Regions from separate parts of the Homo sapiens genome. Here region 1 is linked to region 2. The links come from fine-mapping of genetic effects on gene expression. A gene starts in region 2. The other region holds a variant in brackets. All regions are shown on one strand. Distances are between the middles of the regions. Region 1 holds the start of CYP4F22 (cytochrome P450 family 4 subfamily F member 22). Region 2 holds the start of RASAL3 (RAS protein activator like 3).

Evidence for each region.
Region 1: its variant is fine-mapped to the expression of RASAL3 in whole blood (INTERVAL, PIP above 0.99).

The regions. Positions count from the first base shown.
Region 1 is chr19:15,500,087-15,515,643 of GRCh38, forward strand. CYP4F22 (cytochrome P450 family 4 subfamily F member 22) reads left to right here and starts at 8,439. Exons shown (of 14, transcript NM_173483.4): 1 at 8,439-8,497. It also overlaps the pseudogene LOC100422106. RefSeq lists an enhancer at 8,083-8,583. The variant T/C (reference allele first, on the strand shown) is at 8,983.
Region 2 is chr19:15,457,426-15,472,982 of GRCh38, forward strand. It overlaps RASAL3 (RAS protein activator like 3), which reads right to left and starts at 7,119. Exons shown (of 18, transcript NM_022904.3): 1 at 7,080-7,119; 2 at 6,606-6,952; 3 at 4,046-4,182; 4 at 3,793-3,871; 5 at 3,635-3,696; 6 at 2,778-2,833; 7 at 1,104-1,230; 8 at 903-1,001; 9 at 1-409. The coding sequence starts at 6,933. PGLYRP2 (peptidoglycan recognition protein 2) reads right to left here. Exons shown (of 5, transcript NM_052890.4): 3 at 14,465-14,675; 4 at 12,207-12,504; 5 at 11,220-11,327. The coding sequence ends at 11,238. RefSeq lists enhancers at 6,343-6,482, 6,583-6,712, 7,353-7,462, 12,461-12,550, 12,561-12,610.

The DNA.
Region 1 (15,557 bases), 43 kb after region 2:
CTCCCAAAGTGCTAGGTTTACAGGCGTGAGCTACCTCGCCCGGCCCCCACTGCGTTTTTATCGCTATTGTCTTCCTCCACCGGGAGCTTCTCTCCCCTCCCTTCCTCCACCCCAATCTTCCTGTTTGACTGTCTTTATCTCTCTTCCTTCACCCTTCTTCTTCTCTTCTACTCACTCCGTTAAAAACTCCAGCCTAGGCCAGGCACGGTGGCTCATGCCTGTAATCCCAACACTTTGGGAAGCTGAGGCTTGAGCCCAGGGCAACATAGTGGGATCCCCCCTGCCCATCTCTACAAAAAAATTAAAAAATTAGCTGGGCGTGTTGGTGAGCGCCTGTAGTTTTAGCTACTTGAGAGGCTGAGATGGGAAGATTGCTTGAGCCCAGGAGGTCGAGGCTGCAGTGGACTATGTCCGCACCACTGCACTCCAGCCTGGATGACAGAGTGAGACCCTATCTCAAAAACAGAACAAAACCTCCAGCCTAAATGATGCCCAGGTGGAAAACCTTGGAGTTACATCCAGTCTGTCAGCAAATCCCATCAGCTCCACCTTTTATTAAACAAATCCCAAACTCTACCACCTTTCACAACTCTAAGTTCCTTCAGGGTTGGGCAGTGAGGAAGCAAGCTCTTGCTCCCCGTTTACTCTGTTCATGATATTGCAGCCAGAGGAAGCCTGTTAAAACCTCTCAGGGGACATCCCTTCTCTGCCTAGAACCCTGTATGGCTCCCACCTTCCTCAGAGTAATAACCTAAGCCCTCTCAGTGGTCCCCCAGGTCCTAGACAACCTGTCCTGTCACTTCCCTGCATTTATCTCCTCCCGGTATCCCCCTCACTCACTCTGCTGCAGCTTCACTGGCCTCTTGACTGTTCTTTAAGGCATGGTCCAGCCTCAGGTCCTTTACACAGGCTGTGCCCTCTGCTTGGAATGCTTAAGATCCCTGTTCAAATATCAACTCCTCAGAGAGGGCTTCCACATCTCCTTACCTTGCTAGGTTTTGTCCCATAGCACATATCACATAGATTATACACTTTTAATTTATGTGTTTTTGTTTATTCACTGCAGAGCAATGCCTGGTACCATGTGCAAACTTGGCATTTGTTGAATGAATATGTGCTATGTGACAGCTGGGGCTGGGGACAAGGCAGAGAAAGAGAAAGATCCCTTTTACCTGCGTGGAGTTTACAGCCCTATCCAGGGCTAAACAAATCATTCCAAGAGGCAGGCACGGTGGTTCATGCCTGTAATTCCAGCACTTTGGGAGGCCGAGGCGGGTAGATCACCTGAGGTCAGGAGTTCGAGACCAACCTGATCAACATGCTGAAACCCTGTCTCTACTAAAAATACAAAATTATCTGGGTGTGGTGGTGCATCCCAGCTACTTGTGAGGCTGAGGCAGGAGAATCACTTGAACTCGGGAGGTGGAGGTTGCAGTGAGCCAAGACCGCGCATTGCACTGCAGCCTGGGCAGCAAGAGCAAAATTCTATCTCAACAAAACAAAACAAAACAAAAACAAAACAAAAAAATCATTCCAAGAGCAATTTTACTGGGAGCGAGGACACTCAGGGGCTGTGGCTGCATTGAGTATGGGCTGGAACTAAGCCCAGTGACTGGGGAAGCCCTCAGAAAAAATGGCCTTAAGTAGGAGTTAGTTGGGTGGGTGAGAGGAAGATAATTCCAAGCAGAGAGAAGAGCATGTGCAAAGGATTTAAAGTTGGAGAGATGGTCTTTGATGGGTTTGGCAAAAATGGTCCCAAGTGGCTTGTGTGTGGATGGGGAGAAGGAAAGTGGCCAGCACATGTTAAAAGGGGCCATTTAACACCCCACTTGCCTCTCACCTTTGAATTGCTTTCCTTCCTTCCTTCCTTCCTTCCTTCCTTCCTTCCTTCCTTCCTTCCTTCCTTCCTTTCTCTCGCTCTCTCTCTTTTTTTCTTTTTTTTTTTTTTCGGAGTTTTGCTCTTGTTGCCCAAGCTGGAGTGCAATGGCATGATTTTGGCTCACTGCAACCTCCACCTCCCAGGTTCAAGCAATTCTCCTGCCTCAGCCTCCCAAGTAGCTGGGATTACAGGTGCGTGCCACCATGCCCAGCTAATTTTTTGGTATTTTTAGTAGAAACGGGGTTTCACCATGTTAGCCAGGCTGGTCTCGAACTCCTGACCTCGGGTGATCTGCCTGCCTTGGCCTCCCAAAGTGCTGGGATTACAGGCATGAACTACCATGCCCAGCTGTGTTGCTTTCTTTGTTTGAAATCTCTGATATCACCTGTTCTGTTTCCACTTTTCTGCCTCACTGTTTTTGTGTCCCAGGAGGCTGATGTATATGGACCACTCAATGAGCTCCTTTGTCTTGTGGCTTCCAGTTGGGTTGAAACAGCAGGGAGCCATAGCAGGCATTGGAGGGAGGGAGGAAAGTGAGGTTAGGTTATTTGTAACTCATCTTCTTTCCATGCAGGCTGGCTGTGTCCCTCCACCGGAGGTTCAGAACTCTTGACAGGTGGACCTCTTTGCATAGCCCTGTCTGGTCCAGGTTCTAGCAACTTTAGTTCCTTGGCCCCAGGTCCTAGGGGTGGTAACTAATTTCAGCTGTTACCAGCCCCTGGTGTGCTGCACTATCCCTTTGAAAATAGTGCTTTTTATTAAACTCTCTACAAATTACTCCACTTAAGTGTTCGGTCTGTTTCCTGCCGAGTTCTTTTTTATTTTTATTTTTTTTGAGATGGAGTCTCACTCTGTCACTCAGGCTGGAGTGCGGTGGCACGATCTTGGCTCACTACAACCTCTGCCTCCCGGGTTCAAGTGATTCTCCTTCCTCAGCCTCCCGAATAGCTGGGACTACAGGCGTGAGCCCCCATGCCCGGCTAATTTTTGTATTTTTAGTAGAGACAGGGTTTCACCATGTTGACGAGGCTGGTCTCGAATTCCTGAGCTCAGGAGATCTGCCCGCCTCGGCCTCCCAAAGTACTAGGATTACAGGCATAAGCCACCGCGCCTGGCCCTCTTTTGTTTTTAGAGACAGGGTCTCACTCTGTTGCTCAGACTGGAGTGAAGTGGTGCAATTGTAGCTCACTGAAACCTCAAACTCCTGAGCTCAAGCAATCGTCCCACCTCAGCCTCCTGAGTAGCTGGGACTACAGGCATGTACCACTATGCCTAATTTGTTATTTTTTATAATTTTTACAAAAAATTATTTTTTTTAGAGATGGGGTCTGGCTATGTTGCTCAGGCTGGTCTTGAACTCCTGGACTGAAGCAATCCTCCTGCCTCGACCTCCCAATAATAATAATTATATATATAATTATTATATATATTATATATAATAATTATTATATATTATATATATATAATTATTATATATATATAATATATATATATATAAAGTATTTATTTTAATTGAGGTGAGGCCGGGCACAGTGGCTCATGCCTGTAATCCCAGCACTTTGGGAGGCTGAAGAGGGAGGATCACTTGAGGCCAGGAGTTTGAGACCAGCCTGGCGAACATGGCAAAACCCCGTCTCTACTAAAAATATAAAAAAATTAGCTGGCTGTGTGTCACAGGCCTGTAATCCCAGCTACTTGAGAGGCTGAGGCACGAGAATTGTTTGAACCCAGGAGCCGGAGTTTGCAGTGAGTTGAGATCGCACCACTGCACTCCAGCCTGGGCAACAGGTGAGACTCTGTCTCAAAAAAAAAAAAAAAAAAAAAAAAAAATTGAGGTGAAATTCACATAACATAAAATTAACCCTTTAAAGTGTAGAATTCAGTGACATTTAGTGCATTCACAATGTTGTGCAACTATCACCTTTATCTAGTTCCAGTGTTTTTGTCACCCCAAAAGGAGGTCCTATAACCACTCCCCCTGGGTATGGGCTTCTCTCTCCATCCCCCCTCCCCCAGCCCCTGGCAACAACTACTCCACTTTCTGTCTCTGTGAATTCACTTAGTCTGAATATTTCATATAAATGTAATAATGCACTGTGTGACCTTTTGTGTCTGGTTTCTTTCACTCAGCACAATGTTTATGAGGCTCATCCACATTGCGGCATGGATCAGGGTTTTATTTATTTTTATTTGTATTTTTTTTTTCAGACGGAGTCTCACTCTGTCCCCCAGGCTGGAGTGCAGTGGTGCGATCTTGGCTCACTGCAATCTTTGCCTTCCGGGTTCAAGCGATTCTCCTGCCTCAGCCTCCCGAGTAGCTGGGATTACAGGTGCCCGCCACCGTGCCCAGATAATTTTTGTATTTTTAGTAGAGACAGGGTCTCACCATGTTGGCCAGGCTGGCTCAACCTCCTGACCTCAGGTGATCCACCTGCCTCGGCCTCCCAAAGTGCTGGGATTACAGGCAAGAGCCACCTCGCCCGGCCTTTATTCTTTTTTATGACTGAGTAATATTCCATTGTATGGATGGACCACAGTTTGTTTATCCATTCATCTGTTGGTGGAATTTGGGTTGTTTCCACCTTTGGCTATAATAAATCGTGCTATCCCGAGCACTCCTCTACAATTACGTGTGAGTAACTGTTTTCTTTTCTCTTTCTTTCTCTTTATCTCTCTCTCTCTCTCTCTCTCTCTCTCTCTCTCTCTGTCTCTTCTTTCTTTCTTTTTCTTTTTTTTTGAGACAGGGTCTCATTCTGTAGCCAGGCTGGCGTGAAGTGGTACAATCTCAGCTGACTGCAATCTCAGCCTCCCAGTCTCAAGCTGTCTATCCTCCCACCTCAGCCTCCCAAGTAGCTGGGACTATAGGTACGCACATCATGTCCAGCTAATTTTTTATATTTTGTAGAAATGAAGTCTTGCTATGTTGTTCCCCAGGCTAGTCTGGAACTCCTGGGCTTAAGTGATGCTCTCTTGCCTCAGCCTCCCAAAGTGCTGAGATGACAGCTGTAGACCACTGTACCTGGCAAGTACTTGTTTTCAGTTATTGTGTGTGTATACCTAGGAGTGGAATATCTGGGTCCTATGGTAATTCTGATTAGCTTTTTGAGAAATTCCCAAACTGTTTTCCACTGTGGCTGAACCATTTTACGTTGCCACCAGCAGGGTATGGCGAGATCCCTCTTCTTTTTATCTTTGACTCCCTGCCATGACCTGCCACATCCACTCCCAGACAGCTTTCTACTACCATTTCCCAAGTCCAGCCACAGCCTCCACTTCCTCCCCTCCCACTTCAACCTCACCCCACTGAGCCCTGGGCTGTGGCAGGCTGAGGGCTCTGGTGGCATGGGAACCACACAGCTCTAGAGCTTGGGTTCCTTGACGTCTAGGTGCCAGTGATGGTCCCTACTACCACTCTTCTCAAACTCCATCTCCAGCTCCAGCTCAGTGCTGCTGCCTGTCCTCTCTATAAATGTAGCTATTATCTCTGAGGTCAGGAGTTTGAGACCAGCCTGGCCAAAATGGCAAAACCCTGTCTCTACTAAAAATACAAAAATTAGCCGGGCGTGGTGGTGCAAGCCTGTAATCCCAGCTACTCAGGAGGCTGAGGCAGGAGAATTGCTTGAACCCGGGAGGTGGAGGTTGCAGTCAGCCAAGATAGCACCACTGCACTCTAGCCTGGGTGACAGAGCAAGACTCTGTTTGATTAAAAAATAAAATAAAAGGCCAGGCACGGCAGCTCATGCCTGTAATCCCAGCACTTTGGGAGGCCAAGGCAGGTGGATCACTTGAGGTCAGGAGTTTGAGACCAGCCTGGCCAATACGGCGAAACCCCGTCTCTACTAAAAATACAAAAATTAGCCGGGCTTGGTGGTGGGCACCTGTAGTCTCAGCTACTCGGGAGGCTGAGGCAGGAGAATCGCTTGACCCCGGGAGGCGGAGGTTACAGTGAGCCAAGATTGTGCCACTGTATCCAGCCTGGACAACAGAGCAACAGAGTGAGACTCCATCTTAAAAAAAAAAAAAAAGTGGCTGTGATCCCCACTTCTGCCCTCCCCTCCTCTTCTCTGCCCACCTCCCTCCTGAGTGATCTCGCTGACCTACTGCCATGCCATCCACCGTCTTCCCAAGGCAGGTGACTCACAGATGCAATTCTCAGGAGGTGCCCTCACGCTGAGCCCAACTGCCTCCTGGATGTCTCCCTGAATGTCATCCCATGAGACCCACGAGACTTTTAGACTGAAGGTGACCCACGGTTTCCCAATCTTAGCACTGTCAACATTTGAGCCTGGATTATTCTTTGGGGGTGGGGGTGTTCTGGATGTTGAATAATATCTCTGGCCTTCACCCACTAGATGTCAGTTGCACCACCCTGAATTCCCCCACCCCCACCTCTACCCCCCACCCAGCAGTATGATCTCCTGATGTTGCTAAACATTCCCTGGCGGAAAACTCTACTCTGCTGGGATGGCCCCAATCAACTGCAAACTCAAACAGCTGATGTTTGTCCAGCCTGTGCCCTGTGCCAGGAGTGGGGCTGAACACCACCTCATCACATGGGCTTCTTCTGCATTTTATGCATAGGGAGATGGAGGCTCAGAGCAGCCATGTGACTAGCTCAAGGCCACACATCCACGAAGCCCACTCTTAGTGCTCCAGGCCCTTTCACTTACTCCTCCTTCCTGGTCTCCAGCTCTTTGAGAGCAGAGAAGCCAGGCAGATGGCTTCTTTTCCTTCTCTCTTCCCTAGAACCCCGTATTTAGCCAGTGGTCAGTGGAGATGACCTCCGGGACCTCATCCTTAACCCCTTCCTGGGTCTCAGCTACCCCCACCCTTTGTCTCTGTCCCCTGCAGCCACTGGAGGGGTCCCTCTCAAACTTCACTCTATGTGGATCTCTGCATTTTCCAAAGTGCTTCTAGTAAGCTCCCCCTTGGCCAGAATTACTGGCAAAACAAAATTCATATCCCTAAAAAATAGGCTTTCATGCTGCGTTAATTATGAATAAAAAATTAATAAAATAAGCTCTTCCTCAGAAGTAAAAAAGATTAAAGACACAAATAAATATAAATATTTTTTTTTAAAAGTTCTAGGAGCTGGGAGAATGGCTTGAGCCCAGGAGTTTGAGACCAGCCTGGGCAACATAGTGAGACCCTGTCTCTAAAAAAATGAAAAAAAAAAATTAGCTGGGTGTGGTGGCACGTGTCTGTAGTCCCAACTACCCAGGAGGCTGAGGCAGGAGGATGGCTTGAGCCCAGGAGTCACCCCAGCCTGGATGACAGAGTGAGACCAATCAACTAACAGGGGGCACCTCCCCTACTCAAGCACCATCCATGGCTCCCCACTGCCCACCAGATCAAGATCCAGCCATTCAAACTGGCCTTCACAGTCAACTCCTGCATCCCTCCAGCCTCCACACCTCTCACACTCCAAGGCCAGGGAAAGCCATCTGCTAAGTCACACCCTCCAGTTTCTCTGTGCTTGAGCTCTACCCCCTCTCCTGCACTTGTTGAAATCCAACCTCTCCATGCAGTCCCAGCTCAAGTGTCACATCCTCCACGTCGCCTTCCCTGACCTCATGTCTGCCTCCTCCAAGCAGCAAAACTTCAATTACTTGTGTCTCCTCTTCTTCACCAGGAGACATGCCCCACACCTCCCACGCCCTCTTTCCAAGGGCCCAGCACCAAATGAGAGCGTATTCTTAGAAAAAAGAGGGATAAGGAAGTCTTCTAAGTTTACCACCTGCTGGGGCAAGTGGAGATTCTTGTCTTCTCATCTGTCTGCCCACGTGCTAAGGTCAGCCACACATCCACCCACCGACTCCGGAGGACAGACACATCCAGAGGCGGAGCTGACTCTGTCTCCACACATCTGGAGTAGACGGGTTGGCCAAGGACAACATCCTGGTCAGAGGGTCAAGGTGTCTGGCAGTGGGTGGGGAGGAGTGGCGGAGGGCGGGTTGGCGGGGAGCAGAACCAGTCTGGTGCTGCTTGTTGAGGTTGGAGGTCTTCCTGGAGGAAGAGGCTGCAGAGCCTCCAGGGGTGGGTGCCGGGGAAGCTTAGGCCCAGGATCCAGAGAGAGGGGAAGGGCTGGTTCCCAAGGGCTGGTGGAGCCAGAGAATTCCTGAGGGCCCCAGAGGAGGCTTCTCGGGGGGGTCAGTGGGGCCCCAGGGGGTGATGGTTTAGAGATCGCTGTCCAAGCTTGGGAGCAAACCTGGAAGTAAGGGCCATGGGGGGTGTTGGTGTGGGAGGAGTGTGGTCCAGAGCGGGACTTGGGCGCTAATGCGGCCCAGCAGTGGCAGGAGGGCGGGGAGCCTGATGGTTTGGGACTTCTAGGTGTCCAAGTCTCTGTCTCTCTTCATCTCTCCATCTCAGTCTCAGTCTCTCTCTCTTTCCATCGCTCTCCACCCCTCCACACGCCTATTTCTTGTTCTCTCCTTTTCTAGGGGGCAGCGCTGGAGTCCCCGCCCAGAACCCTGCGGGAGCCCGGGGCGGGATGTCCGGGGGCGGACCCCTCGGCACGGCCGGGCGGGGTTAAAGGGTTGGGCCGTGGGACGGCGCGGTCAGATCCCAGGTAGTGGCGCCGGTGGATCCGGATCGAGGGCAGGAGGCTGAGACCCGCGGGTGAGTGCGCGCGTGGTGAGGGCTGTAACCTGAGCGCGGCCGCGGCGCTGCGCTGGAACCCGAGGCTCGCGCGGTTCGGTGCTGGCGGGGCAAGGGCGAAGGTCTGCGCGCGGCGGCGGGCGGGGCGCAGCCGGCCACGGGGACCCCCCCAGGACCCAGGACGGGGCTGCATGCCCGGGGCACTCGTGGGGAGAGGGGCACGTGGGTGTGTCCCCGACGTTTGCTGCATTTGTGAGTTGTTTTCTTTTTTTTTTTTTCTGTGTGCGCCTCGGAGTCCTAGGCGCATCCTTTTCTCTGGGTATCTGTGATGGGCAGGGGGCCTCCAAAAGACCCCTCTGGTAGTCAGGACATCCCAGATGGGTTCAAGCCCCGCCCTGGGACGCCTCTTTGGGGCTGAATGGGGATTCGCCCTGAGATTTCACCACTGCACGTTGTCTTGACGGGGAGGTTGTAGTACATTCAACCGATGGGGTTAGGCTTGTGGT[T/C]CAACTGCTATCAGGAACCCTCTGCCCATCCATGCCAGACGCAGAGCCCCTCTATGAAAAGACGGTGTTCTTCTGGCCCCGAGAGTTGGCTCTGAGGGTTGTGTGAGGTCCTGGGGTTGGTCCCAGGTGATCTTCGTCTGATAGATGCTGGAAGGAAGATGTTTTCTGGCCTCCCAGGGGCCTGGCCCAGCCTGGGTATGCAAGTTGGCCGAGGCTGGCCACCTGGGGAGTCGCAGGCTGGAGAGGCCTAGGCTCAGGGCATCTCTCCTGGTTCATCTGCCCGCTCACAGCTCATTCATGCACTCATTGTGAGTCTCACCGCCCTGTAGGCAAAGGAGATGGCCAGGGCTGGCTGCGTACCCGAAATTCCTCCTACCCTGTGCCCCTTGCTCCACCCCTTATTTCTAGGTCCTGGAGCTGTGCCCAGCCAGGGCTGGCAGCATCAAACTCCTTCTTGTGTAACTCCAAACCCCAAAGAGAAGGAACCTCCCCAAATCTTCCCTACCACCCTCATTTTACAGGCACGGAAACTGAGGGCCAGAGAGAAGAAGCCTGTGCCTGTGGATACCCAGTGCCCAGTGGGAGAGCTGGGATTTGAAAAAACAAGCCCTGTTTGACCCCAAAGCCTCAGTCCACTTTCCGATGTCCCCGGCATCACCAAATGGCCCAGCTTGGGTTTCTGAACAGTAACATTAACTCTGGCCTGGTGTCTGGCGGTGACCCAGGTTGGTATCTGCAGAGGGGCTTGGATGACTTGAGAGGCATTCAGGGAATGGGACCCATCTCTCCTTCCTTCCTTCCTTCCTTCCTTCCTTCCTTCCTTCCTTCCTTCCTTCCTTTCTTTCTTTCCTTCCTTCTTTCTTTCTTTCTTTCTTTCTTTTCTCTGTCTCTCTCTCTTTCTTTCTTTCTTTCTTTTTTTGTTGTTGTTGTTGAGACAGGGTCTCACTTTGTCACCCAGGCAGGAGTGCAGTGGCATAATCATAGCTCACTGCAGCCTCGATCTCCTGGGTTCAAGCAATCCTCCTACCTCAGCCTCCTGAGTATGGAGGACTACAGGCATGCACCACCACTCCTGTCTACTTTTTGTATTTTTGGTAGGGATGGGGTTTCACCATGTTGCCCAGGCTGGTCTTGAACTCTTGGGCTCAAGTGATCCACCCGCCTCAGCCTCCCAAAGTGCTGGGATTACAGGCATGAGCCACTGCGCCTGACTCATCTCTCCTTGTTGATAAAACTTGGACCTGATTCTCCAAACCCCAGATGGCCAGGTCACAATAATGAACGTGATGGCAGCACCAACGGTAATGAGAGATATCATTGATCAAAGGCTTACTATGTGCCTGGAAGATTGCAGCCCCATGAGGTGGGTAAATAGGGCTTCTGTCTTAATGGATGAAGAAATTGAGGCTCAGAGAGGTGCAGACACTCACCCGAGGTCGCACAGCAAAGAGGCAGACCTTTATAGAATCTTTTCTGAGGCTCATGTCCAGGTGTGGCCACACTTGGGATGGTGGGCAGAAACAATTACAACCCTGCAATGGTCTAGATTATTAGTGGTTTTAAAACTTCTTTTTCTGCCAGGATCCCCTTTGGGCCAAGGAAATTATTAGCAAAAGGTTTGAATATGATCAAAGCTGCGATAGGACTGTCTCCTTTACCACATTTGCCAACTTGGCCCTGCCCTCATTAGTCATAAATGACTCTGAAGCTCTTTCTCAGAACCTTAGAAATTTAGAGTGCTGAGTGGAGACTGAAGACCTAGAAGCCAGGCTGAGTGTGGTGGCTCATGCCTGTAATCCCAGCACTTTGGGAGGCTAAGGCTGGAGGATGGTTTGAGCCCAGGACTTTGAGACCAGCCTGGGGAATATAGGGATACCATATATATATATATATATATATTTTTTTTTTTTTTTTTGAGATGGAGTTTTGCTCTTGTTGCCCAGGCTGGAGTGTAATGGCGTGATCTTGGCTCACTGCAACCCCTGCCTCCCGGGTTCAAGCTGTTCTCTTGCCTCAGCCTCCTGAGTAGCTGAGACTACAGGCATGTGCCACCATGCCTGGCTAATTTTGTATTTTTAGTAGAGATGGGGTTTCTCCATGTTGGTCAGGCTGGTCTCGAACTCCCGACCTCAGGTGATCCTCCCTCCTCCCAAAGTGCTGAGATTACAGGCATGATTACAGGCATGAGCCACCGCGCCCAGCACTATATTAATTTTTTTTAACAAAAAAATTAAAAAAAAATTAGCTGAGCATGGTGGCAGGCGCCTGTAGTCCCAGCTACTCAGGATGCTGAGGTGGGAGGATCACTCAAGCCCAGGACGGGGAGGTTGCAGTGAGCCAAGATCACACCACTGCACTCCAGCCTGAAGGACACAGCAAGACCATGTCTAAAAAACAAAACAAACAAACAACAACAACAACAAAACAACTTAGAAGTCCCCTCTCAGCTCCAGCCTTCTGGGGTCTGGCACTTTGGGGGAATATGTGAGTCTCTGGGGTAAGCCAGCCCTCTGATGTTGAGGAAGCCAAGGTGGCACCATGAATCAGTGGGGACGGGGGCAGGCTGCCTTGACTACAGGCTTGGAGTGAAAAGGAGGGCTGGGATTTGGGGTGATGGGGCCAGCGTTGGGGTGCTCTTCCATCAGGCTCCTGGCTGGTCCCAGCCCCTGCAGTTCAAGAAGAGGCATGTATCTCGTACCTGGCGTCGGCCTGGGTCCGTGCCCTCCACTCCTTCTTGGGAGCCCACACACCTTGTATAACAAGTCCTCAGTGGGTGAACGGCTGGGCCAACCTGACAAACCAGCGCGACCTGGGCGTGGGCCGGGACACGGAGCCAGTCGCTGGCTTTCACCACCACCAGATAATGCGGGCCCTGGCAGGGCAGGGCCACCTCTACCAAGGCGGGCCTGCTGGATGAGATCGGGGGCCGGTGTAGATAGGGAGTGGACATGCCAGCCGCCCACAACATTCTGAGGGTGTCACCTTTGAATTGCTCTCACTTCTATCAAATAGCAATAATAGGAGTAGTCATCATGGCTAACATTTTGTGAGCTACGTGACAAGGCCTTTCCATGCCTCATTTCACTGAGCCGTCCCAAAAACCTTAGGGGGTAGGTCCTGTTATTATCAACCCATTTCACAGATTGGCAAAGGGAGGCTGATGGCAGGGACTGGGTTCACCCAAGGCTGCTAACCTAGGGAATAGGAGAGCTGAGATTTGAACCCAGGCCTGTTGAAGTCAAAAGTGAACATTAAATTAAATTAAATTAATTTTAGTTTTTGAGATAGAGTCTCACTCTGTCCCCCAGGCTGGAGTGCAGTGGCAAGATTTTGGCTCATTGCAACCTCTGCCTCAGCCTCCCAAGTAGCTGGGGCTACAGGCATCCACCACCATGCCCAGCTATTTCTTTTTTTCTTGGTAGAGACAGGGTTTCATCATGTTGCCCAGGTTGGTCTTAAATTCCTGACCTCAAGTGATCCTCCCTCCTCAGCCTCCCAAAGTGCTGGGATTACAGGCATGAGCCACCATGCCTGGCCTGATTTTTTTGTTTTTTAGTAGAGACGGAGTCTCACTATGTTGCACAGGCTGGTCTCAAATTCCTTGGTTCAAGTGATCCTCCCATCTTGGCCTCCCAAAGTGCTGGGATTACGGGCATGAGCCACTTCACCTGGCTGATACCTTTCCTCCATTATCTAAACTCCATAGTTTACATTAGGATTCACTCTTTGTGTCATGCAGTAAACTAATGAATTTTTATAATTGATTCAATTTTTTTTGAATGGGTGACATGTGCTCATGGTATAGGAAACCAAAACGACTGGAAAAGTGGATAGTAAACTTAAGTTTCCCTTCCACCCCTGTCCCGAGTTCTTTCAGGCCCTTTCCAGAGGCTGCCACCATTTTTCCTGGGTCCTCAAAGCTTTTCTCTCTCTCTCTCTCTCTCTTTTTTGTATTACCATTTATTGGTGACAAACACTAAGTTTTACTCGCATTCCATGAGGAGAAAAACTCCAGTGTAAACGATGAATGGAGGCAGTACTTAACTCGCAGGGGTACCAGGCTTTCCATATGGACCACACACAGAGCCTCAGTGCACACACTTCTTTTTTCATTTTTATTTTTTTGAGACGGAATCTCGCTTTGTGACCCAGGCTGGAGTGCAGTGGCATGTTCTCGGCTCACTGCAACCTCTGCCTCCCGAGTTCAAGCGATTCTCCTGCCTCAGCCTCCTGAGTAGCTGGGACTACAGGCGAATGCTGCCACGCCCTGCTAATTTTTTGTATATATATATATTTTTTTTTTTTTTTTTTTTTGAGACAGAGTCTCACTCTGTCACCGAGGCTGGAGTGCAGTGGCGCGATCTCGGCTCACTGCAAACTCCGCCTCCCGGGTTCACGCCATTCTTCAGCCTCAGCCTCCCGAGTAGCTGGGACTACAGGCGCCCGCCACCTCGCCCGGCTAATTTTTTTTATTTTTAGTAGAGACGGGGTTTCACCGTGTTAGCTAGGATGGTCTCGATCTCCTGACCTCGTGATCTGCCCGCCTCGGCCTCCCAAAGTGCTGGGATTACAAGCGTGAGCCACCACGCCCAGCCTAATTTTTTTGTATTTTAGTAGAGATGGTGTTTCACCGTGTTGTCCAGGCTGGTTGCGAACTCCTGAGCTCAGGCAATCCGCACCCCCCTCGGTCTCCCAAAGTGCTGGGATTACAGGCGTGAGCCACCGCACCCGGCCCAGTGCACACACTTCTGTGTATAGTAACACAACATCAAAAGCAACACAACTGTATAAAGAAACATAGGTCATACTTTTCAGCCCTAATCGAGATGTAATTAATAGTATCGAGCACTCTGGAAAATCAGTCTGCAGTTTTATGTGAACTATGTGGAGATCATATCCTGTAGTGTAGTGAAAGCTAAGTCCTCAAGAGCCGTATGTATAGACACATGATTTTCTTAAAGAATATTTAAAATGGAGATCAAAGTTCATTTGTTTAAGTCCTGTTTGCATTAACAAAAATAAAAATAAAATAAAAATGGAAGCAAATGATCATCTAAAGTTTAAAATTCCTAAATTGTCCAATTTATACAACTGTGGGAGACTTATTCAAGGTTTTTGAAAGTCCAGGACTGTTTCAGCTGAACCATAGGGCACGTAATTTGCATCACTGAAATGGTGCTGGGTTAGTCAATGAAATAAAAATGTCTAACTACATACACGTGGATATGATCTTTGTCGGTTAGATTATTGATAAAGTCAGTCTCAGAAAAGTTTCCAAACTGTGCGATATAATTAGATACAGTTGAGAAACTCTCAAATGAAAATTTTATATAGTGTCGTCGGGCACGGTGGCTCATGCCAGTAATCCCAGCACTTTGGGAGGCCGAGGCGGGTGGATCACGAGGTCAGGAGTTCAAGACCAGCCTGGCCAAGATGGTGAAACCCCGTCTCTATTAAAAGTACAAAAACTAGCTGGGTGTGGTGGCCCAGCTACTCGGGAGGCTGAGGCAGACAATTGCTTGAACCTGGGAGGCAGAAGTTGCAGGGAGCCAAGACTGTGCCGTTGCACTCCAGCCTGGGTGACAGAGTGAGACTTTGTCTTGAAAGAAAGAAAGAAAGAAAAAGAAAGAAAGAAAGAAGGAAGGAAGGCAGGAAGGAGGAAAATTTTATATAGTGTCATACCAATAAAAAGGAAATAATGAAACTAAGAATACAGATCACTGTTGGAAGAGAAAGCAGTGGTGATGGTGTGGGCACTGCAGGAAGTGGTGGGGCCGTGGCACACTAGAAGTTAGGTCATGCTGAATAGGAAGCATTTGACTTTCTCTGGTGCTTTTAGCTCTGGGGCTGGTTGAAGGCCTCTCTCTGGTGTGGCTGTCCAGGGTTTGTCCCAACTAAGCCAGCTTGAGAAGGGGTCATGCTTTCAGTTTCTTCTTTCACACGGGAAAAAAAAGACCAAACAGGAAGGTGCCCAGGGCGTGGATCTGCTGGTGCCCCAGGAGAGCCAGCTGGCTGGGCAGCCCTTCTTCCCCAAAGGCAGCTGGTATTGCGTAGGGACAGCCAGGTCACCGAGTGGCCGTCACAACAAACCCCAGCACAGTCCAGCCCGGCCACAGCCACCTCCCCTGTTGTGTTCCCTGCTGCTGCCCACATCCTTTACCCACCGTCTCTCGGCCCACTAGAGGTATCAGAAATTCCAAATTTTCAAAGCAGTTTTAATATTTTCAGTGTATATGTTGGGATTTTATAATGGTTCATGGCCAGAAAAGGTTCAGCACCTCCCACACACAGACATTGATCCATTTCCTGTTCTTGGCATCTCTGTACTTTGTTGGTCCAACTCAGACAGCAACTTTAAGGTGTTCAGTGCAGCTGGCCAGGCACGGTGGCTCACGCTTGCAATCCCAGCACTTTGGGAGGCCGAGGTGGATGGTTCGCCTGAGGTCAGGAGTTCAAGACCAGCCTGGCCAATATGGTGACACCCCGTCTCTACTAAAAAGTACAAAAATTAGCCAGGTGTGGTGGCGCATGCCGGTAATCTTAGCTACCCAGGAGGCTGAGGCAGGAGAATTGCT
Region 2 (15,557 bases):
TGTAGCGCTCGGACGGCAGCACGCGCAGGCGACGCGCCCGAATCCGCGCCCGCAGCGCTGCGCCCGCCGGCGCCCCGAGCAGCGGGAACCAGCGCTCCAGACCGGCGGCAGGCGCGCGTGGGGCGTCCAGCTCCTCCAGCGCCAGGGCCACGCGGCCCAGCACCGCGCTTCCCGGGCCCAAGCCGCGCAGCCGCAGCGACAGGCGACGTGCCGGTGGCAGCGCCTCGAAGTGGAAGCGCTCGGCCCAGAAGAGCTGGCCTGGGCCGGCCCGAGGCGCCGTGCGTGCCAGCAGCGCGCCATCCAGCCACAGCTCGGCGCGCACGCCGGGTGCCCCCGCCGCTGCTCGGGGAAGCCCCTTCGCTTCGTGCACCCACACGCTCAGCCATGTCTCTTCCCGCTCCACGTTGTCCTGCAGATGGGAGTGGGATGGGGGGAAGCGTTTTGGTTTGTTGGCACCCCAAAGAAGGCACCGCAAGTGAAGCGTGGAGCCTCAAACCTGTTGCGTCGGGTCCCTAGGGAGATTGCTGGGCCTTTGGGGAAAGAAGTGGAGCCACGGGAGTCCGGAGGCGGTTACGCGGAAGTCTTCTAGCTTTTCTGGGCTCTCCGGGAGAGTTGGGGGCTCCAGGGCATACAAGAGTAGTACTGGAGTAAAGACTTCGCGATTGCCTGGCAGGCAGGGCTTTGGGTGCATATGGGGCCGGGAGTGGACAGAAGGGGCGGGTCTGATATTCCCGGGGCTGGTAATAGATGGAAGGGGAGTCTTGGAGCCGTTGCAACGATGCAGGCGGGGCAGGTGTGTTGGGGGCGCGGGTTATGGAGCGAGCTGGCTTTGGGTAGAGTGGAAGGGGCGGGCCAGGCCTGTGGGCGGGGTCTCCGTGTCCCGCTTTTCTGAGGGCAATGACCTGGGTGGGCTGGAATTGGCGACGAAGGTCCTCGATCCAGCGGTCTCTCTCAGCGGCCGAGCGACAAGAGAAGCAGCGGCTTCCACCCGTCCAGGTTACCTGTTGGGATGGAGAATCCAACGGTGTGATCGAGGCCAAGGGTGAAGCCAAAGGGTGGGAGGTGGGACTGAGGTGGAATCGAGGTGGACTGTCTACACTTACCTGAAAGCAGTGGGGCTCCCCCAGGAGGCTGGGGTGCAGTGGCCAGATCCGCACATCCCGCTCGGCACCCAGGTCCAGTTCAGAGAGTGTGGCCAGCGACTCCCTAGAGCCCAGAGCACTGGGGGGTCTGGGAAGGGGGTGGGTGAGCACACCGTCATTCCTGCCTCTTCCCCATCCCCCATAGCCTGAAGGGTAGAGGAAGGCCAGGAAGGACTTCAACCCAATTCGGATCCCGTTTCTCCCCCGTGCCCCCCCCACCCCCCGCCATGGCACCTCCTTGCTTTTAGGATAAACTCAACTCCTGGTGACCTACATGACCAAGCTGGGTCCAGATGTTGTCACCTCATCTCCCTCCACCTAATCCATCACTTTCTGAGCTCCAGCCTCCCTGGCCTTGTTTTATTTTATCCTATTTATTTATTTATTTATTTATTTGAGACAGAGTCTTGTTTAGTGCGGTGGCTGGATCTCAGCTCACTGCAACCTCTGCCTTCCAGGTTCAAGTGATTTTCCTTCCTCAGCCTCCCAAGTAGCTGGGATCACAGGTGCCCACCACCATGCCTGGCTAATTTTCTAATTTTTATATTTTTAGTAGAGGTGGGGTTTCACCATGTTGGCCAGGCTGGTCTTGAACTCCTGATCCCAAGTGATCCACCCGCCTCAGCCTCACCAAAGTGTGGGATTACAGGTGTGAGCCACCGTGCCCAGCCCTATTTATTTATTTATTTATTTATTGAGATGGAGTCTTGCCCTTTTGCCCAGGCAGGAGTGCAGTGGCACAATCTTGGCTCACTGCAATGTCCACCTCCCAGGTTTAAGCGATTCTTCTGCCTCAGCCTCCTGAGTAACTGGGATTACAGGCATTCGCCACCATGCCTGGCTAATTTTGTATTTTAAGTAGAGATGGGATTTCACCACGTTGGCCAGGCTGGTCTTGAACTCCTGACCTCAAATGTTCCACCTGCCTCTGCCTCCCAAACTGTGGGATTACAGGTGTGAGCCACCGCACCCAGCCCTATTTATTTTTGAGACACAATCTTGCTCTGTTGCCCAGGCTGGAGTGCAGTGGCATGATCTCTGTGCACTGCAGCCTCAACTTCCCAGGCTCAAGCAATCCTCCCACTCAGCCTCCCCAGTAGGTGGGACTACAGGTGCCCGCCACCATGCCTAGCTAATTTTTGTATTTTTTGTAGAAATGGGGTCTCACTATGTTGCCCAGGCTGGTCTCGAACTCCTAGACTCAAGCAGTCTGCCCACTTTGGCCTCCCAAAGTGCTGGGAGCCACTTCACCCAGCCCTCTTGGCCTTGTTTTAGTTGCTTCTTTCGGCCTCTTGGCCTTTGCACTTGTTGTTCCTTCTGCCTGGAATGCTTTTTCCACCCCCCTGTTGGCCTAGTTAACTTCCATCCACCCTTCAGATCTCAGCTCAAGGGTACCTTCCCTAACCCTCCCAGACCAGTTGATTGACTTAGCTCCCATTTTAGAGTTATTGTGTCAGACTTTGCCCCCACCCTGGCTCTGTGCTAGATCATTCAATGTCCCCAGCATCAACTGATGTGGGGCAGAACACAGAGGCCACAGGGGGTGTTTGGTGTAGATTGGAATGATATGCAGGAGGTGGAGGAGGAGGGGCCAGTGTTGAACCCCAGCCCCTCCAGCCTCTCATACACCCTTACCCATCCCGGGGCTCCAACCTGGCCTTTTTCTTCTCTTTCAGCCTCTTGAGCAACCCCTGTGGGGAAGGGAATGTCAGCTGGACAGAAATCTGTGCTCCTTCCTCAGCTCCTTCCCTCCCAAGACATCCCAGAGGATCTACTGGTCTTGGAGGACCAACACCAAGCTCAGGCTGTATTAGCAGGAATAATAAGAGCAATCAGCAGCTCCTAATTCTTTGTTCATTTGTTTTTTTAAGACAGGGTCTCGTGCTGTCGCCCAGGCTGGAGTACAGTGGTGCGATCATGGCTCACTGCAGCCTCAAATTTCTGGGCTCAAGTGATCCTCTTGCCTCAGCTGGGACTACAGGTGAATGTTACCATGTAGAATTGGGGACTTGCTATGTTGCCCAGGCTGGTCTTGAACTCCTGGTCTCAAGCAATCCTTCTGCTTCAGCCTCCCAAAATGTTGGGATTACAGGTGTGAACCACTGTGCCTGGCCCAAACTCCCATTTGTAAAGCATCAATCATATATTCTCCTATACTATTCATTTATTTATTTAAGAGATGAAGTCTCCCCATGTTGCTTAGGCTGGTGTTGAACTCCTGGCCTCAAGCAGTGCTCTCTGCTCAGCCTCCCGAGTAGCTTGGACTATAGCTGCGCACTGCCCTGCCTGGCTCCTGCACTCTCTATTGGCTTCCCATAAACAACCCCTAGAGAAAGGTTATTTCATTAGCTTCATTTGACAGACTGGGACTCTGAGGCCCAAAGAGGGTCAGCAACCTGCTCCAGATCACCCAGCAAGAGTGCCCTTTCAGCTTTGAGGGTCCGAGAGTCTTGGCTCTCCCCTCTACCTCCCACCTTCACTGGCTGCCTTACCCGAACGTTGTGGACCTGGTTGGGACCAGCAGTCTCCGGTTCTGTTTTTCCAGGCATCCGATCTGTGGGTCGTTATGGGTGGCAGGTTGGGGGGTTGGATTCTGCCCCACTTTTAGAGCCTCCCAAATGCCCCAGGCCTTTCCACCCCTCAAGCTTACCTGGATCCCTGAAGTTCCCCATGGCCACGTGGATGCTGCCCTCGGAGCTAGCACTTCCCACCCGGGGCCTTCGAGGACCCTGTTCTCCCGCAGGAGTGGGTAGTCAGAGAGGGGAGGCAGGCAGGCAGGCAGGCAGGCAGACCGAGGGAGAGGCAGACACCTTCCCATTATCCTCCCTCCAGCCCCTGCCTCTGTTCTGCCCTCCTCCTTTTTCTTTCTTCCCTCCTCCCCTTTCCCAGGTGCCCCCTCTCACCTCCTCCTCTCCTCCAAGCAGCACCAGCTTCCCATCAAGCAGGGTGAAGCCCCCAATGTCCCAGACAGGCACGTTGGGTGTGGGGGCCTCAGGGATCTGTGGGGTAGGGGGCTCCAGCTCTGGCTCCGGCTCCAGCTCTGGGAAGAAGAGGAGGCACTGGGGGACTTAAGAGACGTTTTCTCTCCCTCAGGCTACCCTTTCCATTCCCGAAGGCTCATGGTGGGTTCCCTCCTAGGTGCCCCCCACCCCAGCAGCCGTATCAGACTGTATGACCTTGGGCAAGCTTTCATCGCTGTCTGGGCCTTGTCCCCACTAACCATGGGTAGCAGACACAACTCACCTACCATGTGCCCAGTACCCTGTATACCACTCCACACACCTTCTTGCATTGAATCCTCCAAAAGCCATTCAAAGGGCTATGATAACAGGCTCAGAGAGGTTGAGTGACTTGCTCAGGGTCACACAGTTTGTGAGTGGTTGGGCTGGGCTTCAGTCACAAGCATTCTTCTCTCTCTCTCTTTTTTTGTTTTTTTGTTTTTTTTGCATTCTTCTCTTAACCAAGACATTATGTGGGTCCAAGAGGTTAAAAAACAGGACAGGGGCTGGGCAAGGTGGCTCATGCCTGTAATCCCAACATTTGGGAGGCCGAGGTGGGGCAGATTGCTTGAGACCAGGAGTTTGAGACCAGCCTGGGCAACATAACAAGACCCTGTCTTTAAAAAATAGCCTGATGTGCCTGGGCTCTGTGGCTCACACCTGTAATCCTAGCACTTTGGGAGGCCTAGGCGGGTGGATCATCTGAGGCTGGGAGTTCAAAACCAGCCTGACCAACATGGAGAAACCCCGTCTCTACTAAAAATACAAAATTAGCCAGGCGTGGTGGCACATGCCTGTAATCCCAGTTACTCAGGAGGCTGAGGCAGGAGAATCTCTTGAACTTGGGAGGCAGAGGTTGCAGTGAGCTGAGATTCCGCCACTGCACTCCAGCCTGGGCAAGGAAGTGAGACTGTGTCTCAAAACAAAAACAAAAACAAAAACAAAATGGGAATATAAGCAGTGAGAATTAAATGAGCTTCCAGGAAATAGGAGGGCTGAATTAGCCCTCCCAGATTGCCTGTCTGTTCCCTTGTTTTTACCACCAGGAGCAATAAATGATAACTCCCGCTTATTAACGGATCACTTAAAATATGTTGGGCCTGGGGCCGGGCGCGGTGGCTCACGCCTGTAATCCCAGCACTTTGGGAGGCTGAGGCGGGCGGATCATGAGGTCAGGAGATCGAGACCATTCTGGTTAACACAGTGAAACCCTGTCTCTACTAGAAATACAACAATTAGCTGGGCATGGTGGCGGGTTCCTGTAGTCCCAGCTGCTCAGGAGGCTGAGGCAGGAGAATGGCGTGAACCCAGGAGGCGGAGCTTGCGGTGAGCCGAGATCGCGCCACTGCACTCCAGCCTGGGCAACAGAGCGAGACTCCATCTCAAAAAAAAAATAAAAAAAATGCTGGGCCCTAGGCTAGTGTTACATTCCTGAGCCCTAATTCTTGTGATATCCATTACTCTTCTAGATCCCCCTGTGTGACACTTAGCACCATCTGTCATTTTTTTTCTTTCTTTTTTTTTTTTTTCTTCCATTGAGATGGAGTCTCCCTCTGTCGCCCAGGCGGGAGTGCAGTAGTGCAATCTCAGCTCACTGCAACCTCCACCTCCCGGGTTCAAGCGATTATCCTGCCTCAGCCTCCTGAGTAGCTGGGAGTACAGGTATGTGCCACCATGCCTAGATACTTTTTTTTTTTTGTATTTTTAGTAGAAACAGGGTTTTGCCATGTTGGCCAGGCTGGTCTCGAACTCCTGAGCTCAGGTGATCCACCCACCTTGGCCTCCCAAAGTGCTGGGATTACAGGTGTGAGCCATCATGCCTGGCCCATCTGTCATTTTCTTGTTGATGGATTTCCTGTCAATTCCACTACACTGTGAGCTCCATGGGGCAGGGAGGGTCATCTGTCTCTTTCACTAGTGTGTCCTCAGTGCCTAAATCAGGGCCTGGCACATACAATAGAAGCTCAACAAACCTCTGCTTGAATAAATGAATGAATATGAGCAAATAAAATTATATACTCTCCAAAATGGAGATCATTATTCTCACTGAACTGATGGAGAGGCTGAGGCTTAAGGGCTCAGAACAAAGACACGGAAGCTAGAAGGTAGGAGAGTAGGAGGCAGGCTGAAGATGGATATCCAGGTAGGAAAGGATGGGCCTGAGCCATTGAAGGAGAGACCCGTTGGGGCCAAGAGCCGTTTAGCCTCTGGACAATACTATCACGGGTTTACATTCACTGTTCCTTCCTCAGATGGACCCTCTGCCCACAGGACCCCGGCAACTCCTCCTACCCTCTTTAGGGGGAAAGAGGGAACAGGGTAGCTGGGCCCCAGCGGCTTCCTGCTGGGCTTTTGCACTCCCCACAACTTCCTGTGTCTGTATGGTTGATGCTCCGGAGGCAGACAAAACCCAAGCATCCGGCTTCCCAGCCCGGCCCAAGCTCAGGGTGGGGGAACCATGTACCTGGGGCCTCCTGCTCCGGCTCCGGGTCTGGCTCCGGCGGTGGGTTCTTATGCCTCCCCCAGAGGGCCTTGGAGAGTCGAAGGCGACTGGTCCGTGACTCCTTGGGAGGCGCAGATAGGACCCGACGGAATATCGAGCGAGGGGCTGGCTGGGTGCTGACCATGGGCTCCTGGTGGCTCAGGGCCCTGCCCCAGCCAGCAAAGCGGCCCCAGCGGAACCCTCCAGCCGCCTTCTCCCCACCGCCCCCTGTGTGCCAGCGGTAGGAAGTCAGCGGAGAGGTGGCTGTGGGCTGGGTTTGGGAGGTCCGGCTTGGCGACGGTGGGTCCATGGTTGGGGGGGGGGGTCTCCTGGGGGACGAGAGAGTGACAGTAGTGCCCAGTGTCTGTCCACATACTGCCCTCATCTCGGCCCCCTCCCCACCCTCAGCTCTGCCTCCAGGAATCCCCCTGCCCCCACCTCCACTCCCTCCCTTACCTTGGTTTCCTGACCAGCCCCAGAATCAGCAGCCGTCTGCACCCCGCCTGGCTTCCTCCCTCGGAACCCAACTCCACGTGACCCTCTCTGTCCCACCCCACCCCACAGCCAGGCTGGGAGGGCACAGTGCGGGCAGGTTGCTGGAGGTTCGAGGGAGGAGAAGAGAGGAGGTGGGTTACCAGGCTTCTAGCAAGAAGGACCCAGACTGCCTCCCTGACGGGGAGGCAGCACTTGCCCCTCTCTCTGAGCCTCCGTTGCCTTCTCTGCAAAATGAGTACAGGCTGAACAAATGCTGGCGAGAATACAAAGCACCTAGAACTCTAATCCACAGTTGGCCGGAGTGTAGACCCATTCACTCATGTTGGGAAACGGTTTGGCAGGATCTACTAACACTACTAGCTGGATCTTCTCTGACTCAGCAATTCCATTGCTAGGTAGACGTCCAATAGATATGCCCCCCCAGCACAATGCATAATAGCCCCACATTGGAAGCAGCCTAAGTACCCATTAGTGGGAGAAGGAATAAATTGTGATCTCTTCGCACAGCAGAATATCATACAGCAGTGAGAACAAACTAAAGAATGATTTAACTTGGGTGAATCACAAACAATGTTGAGCCAAAACCAAAACCAAAGCCATAAAATGCCAGTAATCTGAGCTATTCAGGAGGCTGAGGGAGGAGGATCGCTTGAGGCCAGGAGTTCGAGGCTGCAGTGAGCTGTGATCATGCCTGTGAATAGGCAGTGCACTCCAGTCTGGGTGACATAGGGAGACCTCATATCTAACTTTTTTTTTTCTTTTTCCCCTCCCTGCCCTCGGGAGACCCCATCTCTAAAAAGCAATAATAAATAAATTTAAAAACCCCAAAACAATGAAGAGTATACACTTTGTGATTCCATTTACATAAAGTCCTAAAGCAGGCAAAACCATGTCTAACAAGCAGGGTATCAGTTTCTTTTGGAGGCACTGGTGGCTGGGAAGAGGGTACAAGGGGGGCTTCTGGAAGATGGCAAGATTTATTATTACTCTTATTATTATTAATTGATTTATTTATCGAGAAGGAGTTTCGCTCTGTCTCCCAGGCTGGTGTGCAGTGGCACGATCTTGGCTCACTGCAATCTCTGCCTCCCGGATTCAAGTGATTCTCCCTACTCAGCCTCCTGAGTAGCTGGGACTACAGGTATTCACCACCATGCCTGCCTAATTTTTTTGTATTTTTAGTAGAGACGGGGTTTCACCATGTTGGTCAGGCTGGTCTTGAACTCCTGACCTGAAATGATCTGCCCGCCTTGGCCTCCCAAAGTGCTGGTATTATAGGCGTAAGCCACCGTGCCCGGCCCTTATTATTATTATTATTTATAAATGAGGTCTATAAAAATAATATAGATCTCATAAAATAAAAATATAATATTTATATTACATAGTAATATAAATAATATTACATTATACATAATATGAATATTATTATTTTTTGTAGATGAGGTCTGTCATCCAGGCTGGAGTGCAGTGGTGCCATCATAGCTCTCTGTAACCTCTAACTCCTGGGCTCAAGAGATCCTCTCGCCTTAGCCTCCTGAGTAGCTGGGACTACAGCTGCATGCCACCACACCTGGCTTATTAAAAACAATTTTTTTGTTGTTGTTGAGATGAGGGTCTTGCTTTGTTGCCCAGGCTGTTCTTGAACTCCTGGCCTCAAGTGATCCTCCCACCTCAGCCCCCTAAGTAGCTGGGATAATAGGCACATGCTACCATGCCTGGCCTATTTTTTTTTTAATTGAGGTAAAATTCATATAACACAAATTTAGCATGTTCTTTTTTTTTTAATAAGATTTTTTTTTGAGACAGGGTCTTGCTCTGTTGGCCAAGCTGGAGTGCAGTGGCACAATCACAGCTCACTGCATTCTCAACCTCCTGGGCTCAAGCGATCCTCCTACCTCAGGCTCTCGAGTAGCTGGGACTACAGGTGCATGCTACCTGACTAATTTTTAACTTTTTGTTTGTTTGTTTTTTGTAGAGATGGGGCCTCACTATGTTGCCCATGCTTGTCTTGAACTCCTGGGCTCAAGCAATCCTCATGCCTCAGCCTCCCAAAGTGCTGGGAATACAGGAATAGCATCAGCCTCTGTGCCCAGAGAGACGAAGCCTTGTTCTGTCACCCAGGCAGGAGTACAGTGGCTATTCCCAGGCATGATTGTGGGTCACTGCAACCTTGAATTCCTGGGCTCAGGCAATCCTCCTGCCTCAGCCTCCTGAGTAGCTGGGACTGCAGGTGCATGCCACCATGCCTGGCTAATTTTAATTTTTTTTTTTTTGTAAAGAGACAGGGTCTCACTATGTTGCCCAGGCTGGTCTCCTACTCCTGGGCTCAGGCAGTCCTCCTGCTTCAGCCTCTGTAGTGGCTGGGACTGCAGATGTGTGCCACCACGCTTGGCTTAACATGTTCTATTTCTTGAGCTGGGTCCTGGTTACATGGCTGTGTGCTGTTGTGAAAATTCATCAAGCTGTGCCCTTGGGAGCACTTTCTTGTATCTCTGTTAGGCTTCCACAGATGTTTACTTGAAAGCCAGAGGTAAGTAAATGCCATTCTGAGGAATAAATGAGTCAGCATAAATCCGGTCCAGGAGCCGAGTACCAGCTGGCCCCTCTCCCTCTGTGTGACCTCAGACAAGTCATTTCCTCTCTCTGAGCCTCGTTTTCCTTATTTGTACAAGACGATAATATCAGTTTCAAAAGATTCATGTAAGCCTTTGTCTAGTCAACAAATGTTTCCCGAGTGCCTATTACATGCTAGGTGCTGGAGAGGCCGCAGAGAACTAACCAAACTTGGTTTCTGCCTTCCTGGAGCTCACAGATGATGGAGGTAGATAAGATCCTAAACTCATACATGAGACATTTCTAGCTGGTAAGGAGGACCTAGAAGGAAATAGGCTGCAGTGAATGCTGAGCAAAAATGCCACTCTTTGAGCTGGAAAAATCAGGGAGGACTTCCCTGAGGAGGTGACATTTGCAGCCATTTGTATCTAGCAGATGGAGTCCACTATGTCTGTGTAACAAGCATTCCAAAAGTGCCAGTGAATTAACATGTCCCTGAGAGCAGCCCTCACATAATAACTGGTGGGAATTAGTGTATAAATACCCCAGCTCCCTCAACCCTTGTGTGGGATGACTCAGGTATGTGTCCTATGCTCTCCCTCAGGGCTTCGAAGTGAGACTGAGCTCTCTTGCCTACAGTGGAAACTTGCTTGAAAACACATTATTCCCTGGCTGCCTCCAGTTCCCTGCATCGGTACCTGGGTTGTTCACCTCTCTATTTTTTCTTTTTCTTTTTTTTTTTTTCCTTCCTTCCTTCCTTCCTTCCTTCCTTCCTTCCTTCCTTCCTTCCTTCCTTCCTCCCTTCCTCCCTTTCTCCCTTCTTTCCTCTTTCTTTCGTTCTTTCTTTCTTCCTTTCTTTCTTTTTTTTTCTTTGAGACAAGCTCTCACTCTCTTCTCCAGGCTGCTGTACAGTGACGCAATCATGGTTCACTGCAGCCTCGACCTCCCAGCCCAAGCAATCCTCCCACCTCAGCCTCCGGAGTAGCTGGGACTGCAGGCACACAACATTGTACCTGGATAATTTTTTCTTTTTTTGAGACAGGGTCTTGCTCTGTCTCCCAGGCTGGAGTGCAGTGGTGTGATTTCAGCTCACGGCAACCTCTGCCTCCTAGGCCCAAGTGATCCTCCTACCTCAAGTGTGTGGCACCACTCCTGGCTAATTTTTTGTATTTTTGTTAGAGACGGGGTTTTGTCATGTTGGCCAGGCTGGTCTTGAACTCCTGAGCTCAGGCGATCCACCCTCCTCAGCATCCCAAAATGCTGGGATTACAGGCATGAGCCACCGTGCCTGGCTATGCCTGGATAATTTGAAAATTTTTTTTTGCAGAGATGAGATTTCACTCTATTGCCCAGGTTGTTTTCGAACTCCTGAGCTCAGGTGATCCCCTCGCCTCAGCCTCCCAAAGTGCTGGGATTACAGATGTGAGCTGCCGTGCCCTGCCCTGGGATCTCCTCTCAATAAACTACTTGTACTGGAATTATTGTCTTAAGGTCTGCTTTTGGGAAGACCCAAACTAAGACAATGCATGATGATGCATGAACAGAGACTTTGTTTCCATGCTGTCTTTATTGGAGGTCTGTGGCTGGCAGGGTCCTTGGGGGTGGCTCCCTCCTGGATCTCTTAGAGACACTCCTGGCAGGTCTTGGCTTAACAGTCTGGAAAAAGACAAGGGAGTGTGAGGCTTGGGGGTGGTTGTGGTATGTGGCTGGGTCTGCCCTCCTGGTGGTGGAACCCTGGATCAGGGAGGGGACAGTGGCCCAAAGTGAGAGAGTGAGGACAAAGCCAACTATAGGCCGAGATGGATGTGCTAGTCAATAGCTTAATGAAATGGAGTGGCAGTATGTAGGTAGCACGAGATTGTCCAGGTGTGATTCTAAAATTGTTTTAGTGATGGCGATCAAGGGCTGGGATGAGGTCATCAGGTCAAAGTTGTGCTGGCATAAGAGTTGTCATCAGGGGTTAAGGAGTCAGGGACGAAACAAGCAACCTCAGAGTTGAGATTGTCTGGACAGAGAATTGCAACACAGGATTAAGGACTGGACAGAGGTTGTGAAGGCAAAAGGTCACAGCCTAGGTTCATGTTGTGTGGACAGAGGGCCTTCGGGTAGGGGCAGGGGTGAGGTCAAGGTTCGGCGGGCCAGGATGAGGTGGTGCAGCCTGACAGGTTGTGACTTGGGTAGAGAAGTCATGAAGGCCAGGCTGAGGTTGTGAGGGCAGAGGGGCTGTTGGCAGGTGTCAGGGTCCATGCCTTGGCTGGAAAGGTAGAGGTATTAGGAGCTGGGGAAAGGACAGGCTGGCTGGGTCTGGGGCTGAGCTGAGGCTGCATAGGCAGAAGTCACAGGATCAGGGATGTTGCCCGCAGAGTGACCCGCAAAGGCTGGGCCTAGGTTTCCTGAATAGACGTGCCGCCGGGAAGTTGGGGGCCTGGCTGAGGCTGTGCGGGCACAGCTGTTACAGGCAGGGGGCAGGGGCCTCGTGGAGCTTGTGTAGACGGAGGGGCGGCGGGCCGTGTAGTGCAGGCTGCGAAGACTCACCGCGGTGAAGTGCGGCCAGGTGCGCAGCAGGTCGAAGAGCGCGTCGCCGGGGCAGTCGGTGCGCACCAGCTGGCGGTGGCCCAGCAGCGCGTAGTCTGGCCGCAGGAGGCCGGCGCGCACCGCACAACTCGGGAGCGTGTCGCGCACCGTGCGCAGAGCGGCCTCGGTGGGCAGCGCCGCGGTGTAGTTGCCCACTATGGCCACGCCGAAGCCCCGGGAGTTGTGGCCGAGCGTGTGGGCGCCCACCCAGTGCCAGCCGCGTCCCTCGTACACGTAGCCGTCCGAGCCCACCACGAAACTGCAGAGGGGAGGGAGAAGCAAGCACCATGCGGCGTGAGGGGGACCCGGGCCCTTATCCGCTCCCCTCCCCGATTCTGTTGGTGTGCCAAGGGCCACCGACCCCAAGACCCGCGCGGTCGCGCTGCCTGTGTCCCATCCAGCTCTGTTCCACTCTCACACCAGCTGCCACTCCAGGACCGTTCGGTTTCTCTGGATCCGCCCTTCAGTACTGGCACGCCCCTTTCTGCCCTTCTCCTCCCCACCTCTGCCTTTTCTCAAGCCCAGTTCTTGCCCAATTCAGAGAGCTTTTCTGTTTTTGGGTTTTTTTTCTTTCCTTCCTTCCTTCCTTCCTTCCTTCCTTCCTTCCTTCCTTCCTTCCTTCCTTCTTTCTTTCTTTCTTTTTTTGATGGAGTTTCACTCTTGTCGCTGAGGCTGAAGTGCAAGGGCGCGATCTCGGCTCACTGCCACCTCCACCTCCCGGGTTCAAGCGATTCTCCTGCCTCAGCCTCCGGAGTAGCTGGGATTACAGGCACCCGCCACCACGCCCATCTAATTTTTTTTTTAATTTTTATTTTTAGTAGAGACGGTGTTTCGCCATGTTGGCCAGGCTGGTCTCGAACTCCTGACCTCAGGTTATCTGCCCTCCTCGGCCTCCCAAAGTGCTGGGATTACAGGCGTGAGCCACTGTGCCCAGCCTTCTCCCCTCCCCTCGCCACCCCTCCCTTCTTCCCTTCCCTTCCCTTCCCTTTTGGAGACGGAGTTTCGCTCTTGTAGCCCAGGCTGGAGTGCAACGACGCGATCTCGGCTCACTGCAACCTCCGCTTCCCAGGTTCAAGTGATTCTCCCGTCTCAGCCTCCCGACTAGCTGGGATTACAGGCATGCACCACCACGCCCGGCTAATTTTGTATTTTTAGTAGAGACGGGGTTTCTCCATGTTGGCCAGGCTGGTCTGGAACTCCCGACCTCAGGTGATCCACCCGCCTCAGCCTCCCAAAGTGCTGGGATTACAGGCGTTAGCCACCGCTCCCGGCCTCCTTCTTCTTTTCGAGACGGGTTCTCGCTCTGTCACTCAGGCTAGAGTGCAGAGATGCGATCATAACTCACTCAAGCCTCGAACTCCTGGGCTCCAGCGATCCTCCCACCTTAGCCTGCCGAGTAGCTGGGACTACAGGCGCGCAACACCATGCCCAGCTTTTTTTTTTTTTTTTTTTTTTTTTTTGAGACGGAGTCTCGCTCTGTCGCCCAGGCTGGAGTGCAATGGCGCGATCTCGGCTCACTGCAGGCTCCGCCTTCCGGGTTCACGCCATTCTCCTGCCTCAGCCTCCCAAGTAGCTGGGACTACAGGCACCCGCCATCACGCCTGGCTAATTTTTTTGTATTTTTTAGTAGAGACGGGGTTTCACCGTGTTAGCCAGGATGGTCTCAATCTTCTGACCTCGTGATCCTCCCGCCTCGGCCTCCCAAAGTGCTGGGATTACAGGCGTGAGCCACTGCGCCTGGCCTTTTTAAGTTTTTTTTGTTTGTAGAGATGGGTGGTGTGGGGGGGTGTCTTCCTATATTGCTCAGGCTGGTCTCGAACTCCTGGGCTCCAGCGATCCTCTCTTCTCAGCCTCCCAAAGTGGTGAGATTACAGGCGGGAGCCACCGCACCAGGCCTCCTTGTCTGTTTTAGGCCATCTCTGCCTGGCCCCAGACCCAGACTCTGCCACAGGTCCCGCTCCTCTCCCAGATCCCGCCTCCTGTACTAGTTCTCTACCCTGACTGGAGTCCCATGATTTAGCTATTCCCGGTCCCTATTAAGGCCCCGCCCCTAGCCTAAGCCACGCCACCTCTCCAACTTTGCTCTACCTATCAGGACTCCTCCTTGGTCTTGCCAGCTTTCCTCGGGTTCAAGCCCGGTCCCCTGCATCAGGCTCCGCCCACTCAGACCCCATCCCCGAACGTGGGCCCCGCCCCCTCCCCGGTCGGGCCCCTCCTACCTGTAGCCGATGTCTCCCCAGCCTTGCGTGTCCTGGTGGTAGCGCTGCATGGAGCGCATGTTGGCTGCGCAGCGCGTGAAGTCCGTGCAGGGTGGTGCAGGCACGTAGGTGTGATGCACGTACAAGAATCCCAGCGGCAGCTGCAGCAGCTTCGGGCGGCCCCGATAAGGCGCCGCTCCCCAGCGGCAGCGGGGGTGGATGGCCGGGCATCCTACAGGCAAGGGGGTTGAAGGCTGGGGTCAGGAACTGTTTCTCTGCCTGTTCCTCCACCCGCATTAAAGCGCACATACAGACCATCCCTCAGCCTCCTCTCAGATTTGGAAAGGGTCCAGTCTCACCCCACATTGGTCCTCCCTGGGGACCAACTAACTATACTCAACTAAATCTATTTTATTTTTATTAAAAAAAATTGGGGGTGGGCCGGACGTAGTGGGTCTCACCTGTAGTCCCAGCAGTTTGGGAGGACGAGGTGGGTGGATCACTTGAGGTCAGGAGTTTGAGACCAGCCTGGCCAACATGGTGAAACCCGGTCTCTACTAAAAATACAAAAATCAACCAGGCATGGTGGCACATGCCTGTAATCCCAGCTACTTGGGAAGCTGAGGCATGAGACAACTTGCTTGAGCCTGGGAGGTGGAGGTTGCAGTGAGCCGAGATTGTGCTATTGCACACCAGCCTGGGTGACAGAGCAAGACTCTGTCCCCCCCAAAAAAAAATTGGAGGTGGGGGCAGGCATGGTGGCTCACTCCTGTAATCAATCCCACACTTTGGGAGGCGAGGTGGGTGGATTGCTTGAGCCCAGGAGTTCAAGACCAGCCTGGGCAACATAGTGAGACCTCATTTTCTAGAAAAAGAGAAATCAGATTTCCCAAAGCAATCTACAGATTCAATGCAATCTCTATCAAAATATCAAAGTCATTTTTCACAGAATTAGACAAAACTATCCTGAAATTCGCAAGGAACCAAAAATGAGCCCAAATAGCAAAAGCAATTCTAAGCAAAACGAGCCTGGTATCACATTACCTGACTTCAAATTATACTACAATACTATAGTAACCAAAACAGCATGGTACTGTTACAAAAATAGACACAT